Homo sapiens: one gene and its partner. The protein of the gene in region 1 purifies or fractionates together with the protein of each later gene. This does not show direct contact. Each region holds a gene or a part of one and is shown on either strand. Other genes may lie near its edges.

What was found. The genes of interacting proteins can lie anywhere in the genome.
Region 2: the proteins of CKAP2L (region 1) and SIRT5 purify together in Homo sapiens (affinity purification with mass spectrometry; one large-scale study listed by BioGRID and IntAct). This does not show direct contact.

Annotation. Positions count from the first base shown.
Region 1 is NC_000002.12:112,751,110-112,754,609, forward strand, and holds part of CKAP2L (cytoskeleton-associated protein 2-like), read right to left. Parts: intron 1,366-3,500; coding exon 1,158-1,365; intron 1-1,157. UniProt on the Homo sapiens protein: Microtubule-associated protein required for mitotic spindle formation and cell-cycle progression in neural progenitor cells.
Region 2 is NC_000006.12:13,591,601-13,595,100, reverse strand, and holds part of SIRT5 (NAD-dependent protein deacylase sirtuin-5, mitochondrial), read right to left. Parts: intron 3,433-3,500; coding exon 3,207-3,432; intron 1-3,206. UniProt on the Homo sapiens protein: NAD-dependent lysine demalonylase, desuccinylase and deglutarylase that specifically removes malonyl, succinyl and glutaryl groups on target proteins.

The DNA of each region.
Region 1 (3,500 bases):
CGGTCCAGATGATTTTTATGGGCAAGTTTTTATCAAACCTTCAAAAAATAAAAATAATTCTCATGTCATACAAACTATTTTCAGTTTATAGGGCAAAAAGGAAAATACTCAACTCATCTGCCTAAGTCAGCATAACATTGGTACTAGGAAAACACAAGAAAAGACAACCAAAGTACACAAAAATGTGAATAAAAGAATTGCAACTCACAAAAATATAATACTTCATTTCTCGACATACCTATACTGTATGGACATGCATGAAAACAGAATGAATGACTGGCAATGGTGGTCACCTCCAGAGAGAAGTTTGGGATGCCTAAGTATGTATGTTTGTAGAGGGAGAGGGCTGATCATTTATCTGCATTACTTGAAATGATTTCAATAATAAAAAGGTACTCATTTTTAAATAATACAACAACAAAAAAAGAGGATAAGAAAAAGAACTCAAGTTCAATTCCACAAGGAGAAATAGTTAATATTTAACTGGATGTTGTGAAAATGTTGCCTGGAGTAGACTTAAACTGAACTTTTCCTTTTTTTTGCTGATGTTCAACATTACCAGCCAAAGGACTGAATGAGTTTTGCTCTAGGCAAGGATCTTAGAAGTTTATTCCATCATTTTTTATTAATATATTTTTCCTTCAGGAAAAATTTCTCCTAAGGATCATACTCTTTGCCTACCATCTATTTTATCCTTATCTGCAGAATCCAAGATAAAATTTAAATACTATTTGTAGCTACCCAGAGTATTCAGAATACTCCAACTTTACACAGAAACTTGCCTTCTGACCTCAGTTTCAATGTTAAATGTGTACTCTTCAGAACTTGATACCCAAAGAAAGCAAAGTTCCTTTTGGAGCCAGTTTGTTTGGATTAGTTTTCCAACTTCTTTGTGCCTCAGTTTTGTTTGTAAAGTGGTCATAGTAACAGTGGTTATGATAATTATGTGAGATAATCTTAGCTAAGTGCTTATAAAAGCACAGATACACAAAAGACACTGTTTATGGGCATGTCATTATTATTATTACTCTGTATTTACAAGAGTAGCTAAATTTCTACTTAGATGAAGGCTATCTCTCCTATATTATATTTAGGAATATGTTTAAAAATTATAAGACTTTGGGCCAAAGCTGGAGGAGCTTATCTTCTTCACTTACCCCTTCGATGAGGTTCAGACATTCTGTCAGAGTGTTGTTAATTTTACTGGACAGTTCGAGTTGTGCTTTCTTTTCTTCCTCTTCTTTTTCAATGCTCTTCCAGAATGAAATATTCATTTCCTTTATTACTTTTCTTTTTGTTTTAAGTTCCATAGGAGGCCGTTTATAGGTTTTTCCCTTAGATTTCTGCCATTCTTCTAGTTGTTTCCTGAAATTCAATTAAAGGGAGAGTGGTTTTATTTATTTTTAAACATAGTCAAGCTGCTAAAGTATATGATATGTATAGATAGAGTATAATTAAATACTTTCAACTACAGACAAAATCAGGAGAATGGAATTAAAAAACAATTTACAAATGGGTAATGGCAGCATTGGGTTGCGCCCACCCACGAGAAGGCAGACACCAAGATTCTAAGATCACACGTGGCCAGCACTTCAGACTTCAAATAGAATTCGTGATTATGCATTATTTTTCTCGGAAAGTTTTCACTTCACTATATGCTACTTGACACTTGCTTTCCTAAGACATCCCTCTATTTTTGAGATGACTAACTCAGCAATTCATTTCTCTCACGCATAAGCTGTCACTCAACCCAAACCCACCAAGCCTGCATTCTACCCTCAATAAGGTCTTGGTGTGTAAACTGACCCACTTCACCTAGTTCCTTAGCCCTCTCTTGACCAGACATGACTCTTTCATAAGCTAGACCTATAAAGTCAGGGCTCTTAAGTAGCTGATCTCTGATAGTGCCAAGTGTCCCCCACTGTTCACATTTTCCACTCCAGCTTCTAACAGGTGATAGACTGCTTTTTGGGGGTAGGGGCACCAAGACATATAGACCTCATGTTTGGATGTAGACACTCCAGTTTCTTTAAATTACAACTACATATTAATAATGACTTCCAAGTGTACATTTCAGTCCAGATCTCTCCCTGGATCCCCAAACTTTGTAAAACCCACCGCCTAGTTGATATCTTTTGATGTCTGACAGGCATTTCAAATTTAATACTGTCACAAACAAAGTTATTGATTTTCATCTCTGCATCTGTTACAAATTTTTCTTACTTTGGTAAATAGCACCCCAGGCTGTGTCACTGCCAAGAACTTTCCACAGCTCTTGGAATAAAATTCAAAATATTTTCCAAGGCAGAAAGGCACAGTGTAATCTGGCTCCTGCCTACCTCTCCAACCTCGTATCACACTAGTCTCCCTGTCACTCACCCCCTCCAGGAGCTCAGGTATCCTTAAAGTTTCTTTTCTTTTTTTTTTTTTTTTTTTTTGAGACAGTTTTGCTCTGTTGCCCAGGCTGGAGTGAAGTGGCATGATCTCAGGTCACTGCAACCTCCGCCTCCTGGGTTCAAGTGATTCTTGTGCCTCAGCCTCCCAAGTAGCTGCAATTACAGGCGCGTGCCACCACACCCGGCTAATTTTTGTATTTTTAGTAGAGATGGGGTTTCACAATGTTGGCTAAACCGGTCTCAAACTCCTGACCTCAAGTGATCTGACCACTTCAGCCTCCCAAGGTGCTGGGATTACAGGCGTGAACCATTGTACCCTGCCTCCTTGAAGTTTCTTGATCCAGACTCATTCCTGCCTTAAGGTCTTGCATCTTCAGTCCTCCCCTCAAATGACACCTCCATGAAGACGCAATTACCTGTAATTACCGTGTCTTATTTAGTCAATGTGTTGGTTTTCTGTCTCCTCCACTAGAGTGTAAGCTCTATGAAGGCAGAAACCTTGGCAGTCCAGTTCCCAGCACAGTGCCTAGCACACATAGGTATTTAATAACACACAGTAAAATTCACCTTTTAGTGTGCAATTCTGAGTTTTGACAAATGCATCAAGTCATTTAAGTCTGACTATTATCAAGCTATAAGATGGTTGCAACACTATCACTAATTCCCTCATGCTCCTTGGTAGTCAGTCTCACCCCTAACGCCCCCCTCCTGGCAATCACTGATCCGTTTTTTGTCTTTATAGTTTTGGTTTTTCCAGAATGCCAATAACTAAGTTTTGAATGAATGAATGCTATTAACTCTCATTTCTGACTCCAGAGCAACATCCATGCAATATTTATTATTTCAGCCCCAAATACTGCCCCCTCACCTTCACTCCAACCACCTACTTGATGATACAAGGTGAGACATTTGGCATGTGCTTCCTCCATGTTCCTAGCATTTTCCCTATCTCCTTAGCCTTCCTTCTAATCATAAACGAAGAGTGAACTTTCCCTTTCTAAAGGCAACTTACTCCTAGGACCTCGATGCCATAATTTTGTTTCTCTAGTACTTTCTATATATACACCAAACAATTAGCTCCAGAAAGGTAAAGACTCACTGTGT
Region 2 (3,500 bases), on another chromosome or scaffold:
TAACTCCATGACTAATGTGCCATCAGATGACCTTGGAGTGGTGTTCAAGTGGGCAGAAGTTGCCAATAGGGTAGAGGGAGCTCAACCTAAATCTAAGGGCGTGATTTATTGACATGACTGACAAAGGTTCAATGGCGTGGGATATGTTTACAAAATTTTAACTTCGATTTCAGAAAGCTTGAATCTTTTATACAAAAGCACCTCAATAAATAAGTAATCAACTAATAAGTGAAAAAAGTAATTGTTAATACTAACCACCACTTATTGAGCTGAAGCAATCATGGTGGCCACAGTTTATGAAATGGGTACCAGGCAACTGGTGCCGTGCAGAGCACTTTCAACCCTAGTGGACATGCGCTGCTCCGTCCTGCCCACCAGTCCTTCCTTGGGGAGCACCATCCCTGCTCTCTCGCATGCTGAGCCAATAGGGCTGTGGGTCACATCCCAAATACAAGCTCAGCCACATGCTGCGCACGGCCCCCATGTGGTGTCCATCCCTCTGCAGTCGTGTTTGGTCAGAAGGGTGGGCGTGTGGACCAAGCAAGCCTACCCAGAGGTTTATTTTCTGAGCAGGTGGCTGAGCTGGAGCCGTCGGAGGCACTCTCCCTTGGCGCGTGGAGACAGATCAATTGCAGAGAGAGAAGGGAGGCCACCTCAAAGAGTGAGCAAAGCTGAAAGAAGGAGGGGGACAGGGGCCGGGAGGAAAGATGACATAAGCTGCACCACTAGGCTCCTCAGTTTTGTGAGCCAATAAACCTACTTTGTCAGTTTTAGCATAGACATTTTTCCCCATTTTCACATCTCTGAAATTCAGATGTGTCCTACAATTGCTACTGGCCAGATGAGACTGTAACATCATCATCATGCTTGCACAGACTTGTTGAAGGAGAACACTGAAAAATGGGGTGACTTTGTTGTTATTCTCCGTGGCCTGACCGGGCAGATTCAGCCCCTGGATCCTTCCGCCAACAAACCCTTCAAGGGCCACTTCAGGAAGGAAAGCAAGTTTTGGCTGTTGTCTACAGCCTTTCCACTGATGCCTTTTGGTAAGAACATGTCAGGCCCAATAGCGAACTTGCGGAAGGTGTGTCAGGAGCTTGGATGAGAATCCCAGCTATAACAGAGGGGCATTCTCTCAGGAAACGCTGCATCATCCATCTCCCGAGACACAGAGCATGAAACTGCATGGAAAACACAGACATCCGTGCTCTGAGTCACTCAGAATCATTTAGAAGAGCTAGATAATGAGAAATATTTGGACCAGTTTATCATACTCATACTTTATGTATGCCTGGAAAGATATAATTTCTAAAGAACGTGTCTAAGTTTTAACAAGCTCTTTCTCTAAGTATAGAATAATTCTAAGGGATAATAAAATAGTATATCATGGTTTAGGCAGATTATATTCTAAATGCCACATTAAAAACATGATGCATCTTAAAAAAAACCCTTCATCAGACTGAAGATGCCATTGATTTTTTTTAACCTAAGTTAGAAGAGAGTTCTCATCGTTTGAAATTTTAAAAAGTCCTGACTAACACACATATATGATCTTATTTAATCCCGACAACAATTCTATAAGATAGGCATTGTCATCTCGGTTTTATGCTGATGACATAGCCCACATTCTGACACTGCAGGGAAATCAGCAGAGGCACATGGAAAGTGGCTCAGACCCAGCAGATGTAGGTACCAAAAAGATGCTCGGTTAATAGGTGGCTGGCTGTTCCTGATGAACAAAAGACAGACACAGTCGAAATGAGTAGTGCCTCGCTTTCCTTATCAGGGTGATCTAAGTAAAAGCAGGCAGCTTCACCACACACACGCAAAAACAAACACCCCCGACTGGTGCACTGCTTCTGGAAATGCTACACTTAGAAATGCATTTTTGGCTGGCACAGTGGCTCAAGCCTGTAATCCCAAAACTTTAGGAGGCTGAGGAGGGAGGACTGCTTGAGGCCAAGAGTTTGAGACCAGCCTGGACAACATGGTGAGACACTCTCCACAAAAATTTTAAAAAGTAGCTGGGCATGGTGGCATGTGCCTGTAGTCCCAGCTACTCTGGAGGCTGAGGTGGGAGGATCCCTTGAGGCCAGGAGTTCAAGGCTGCAATGAGCTATGATCAGGCTACTGCACCCCAGCCTGGGCAAGAGTGAAACCCCCATTGCTAAAAAAAAAAAAAAAATTAAATTAAATTAAATTAAGAGAAATAAATGCTTAAAAAATAAGAAATGCATTCCTTGGATTTGAATGCAGACTCTTTAAATGCAAATGGCCTTGGGGGAAACCCTAGTTTGCCCATTATGACTGTGGACAAGTGGATGTTTTAGATTTGTGGTGACAGCAAAGAAGGGAGGAGCCAGAAGACAAGAGTGAAGGGGTGAGGGGTTACCCAGGACAGAGGAAGGAGCCCAGAGGGACCCAAGACAAACTCCACCGACATCATAGGCTTGGTGGGTTTGGTGCAGTGTCCAGCACTGAGCTGGCAGCTCCCTGAGGCTCCAGGGCAGGGCAGAAGCACAGCCTCAGTGGGGTCCACCGACATCACAGGCTTGGTGGGCTTGGTGCAGTGTCCAGCACTGAGCTGGCAGCTCTCTGAGGCTCCAGGGCGGGGCAGAAGCACAGCCTCAGTGGGGAGTGCCCACCAGGATGAAGGGGGAGTGACAGGAGACCCCAAGATGCTGCAGTCTGCTCCTGCTCAAGCCCCAGCTGTCCAATGGGCCAGGCCTCTTATTCCTCAGCTCATTGAGGCCATTGTCTCACAGTACCGTGCCCCTCCACAGAGGAAAGGGTCACGCAGCTGTGCACCCCAGCGTTCCTCCAGTATAAAAAGCACGCCAGCCACCTGGGCTCATGGGAAAATGCAGATTCTGATTCAGTGGGGCCTATGGGGCCTGAGATTCTGCATTTTTAACAAGTTCTTGGGGGACGCCAAATGTTGCTGGCTCTTAGACCACCCTGAGCAGCGAGGATGGAGGAACTGCTAAGTGAATAATGTTAGTGGGTCAGGGGCTCCTCCCATGGCCAAAGGCAGCTGCCCAGGTGCCACGGGACACTAACATGTCCCCAAAGGAAATGCCACAGCATCCTATAGGACAGGACGGATGTCCAGCAGGGAGGGAGGGAAGGCACCAGAGGTGATGCTGAAACAGCAGGACAGGTGTTTTAAAGCTGGTTCCCTGAATGGGAGGCTGGGGGTCTCTCACCATGGATCTCCAGAAGGTTCTTGGTGCCAGCCTTGCGGTGCAGCTCATCGATGTTCTGGGTGATGACCACGACTCGCCGGCCCTGCTTGCCCAGCCGGGTCTCACACTCGGCTATGGCGCGGTGCCCGGCGTTGGGCTCCTTGCTCCCCATGACCTCCCGCCGGTAGTGGTAGAACTCCCACACCCGGGACGGGTTGTGGGCAAAGGCCAGGGGAGTCGCCAGGTCCTGGGAGTGGGAGAGGAGGCAGGAGTGAGGGAGGCAGAGACAGCCAGGATGCTGAACCCTGGGGCACA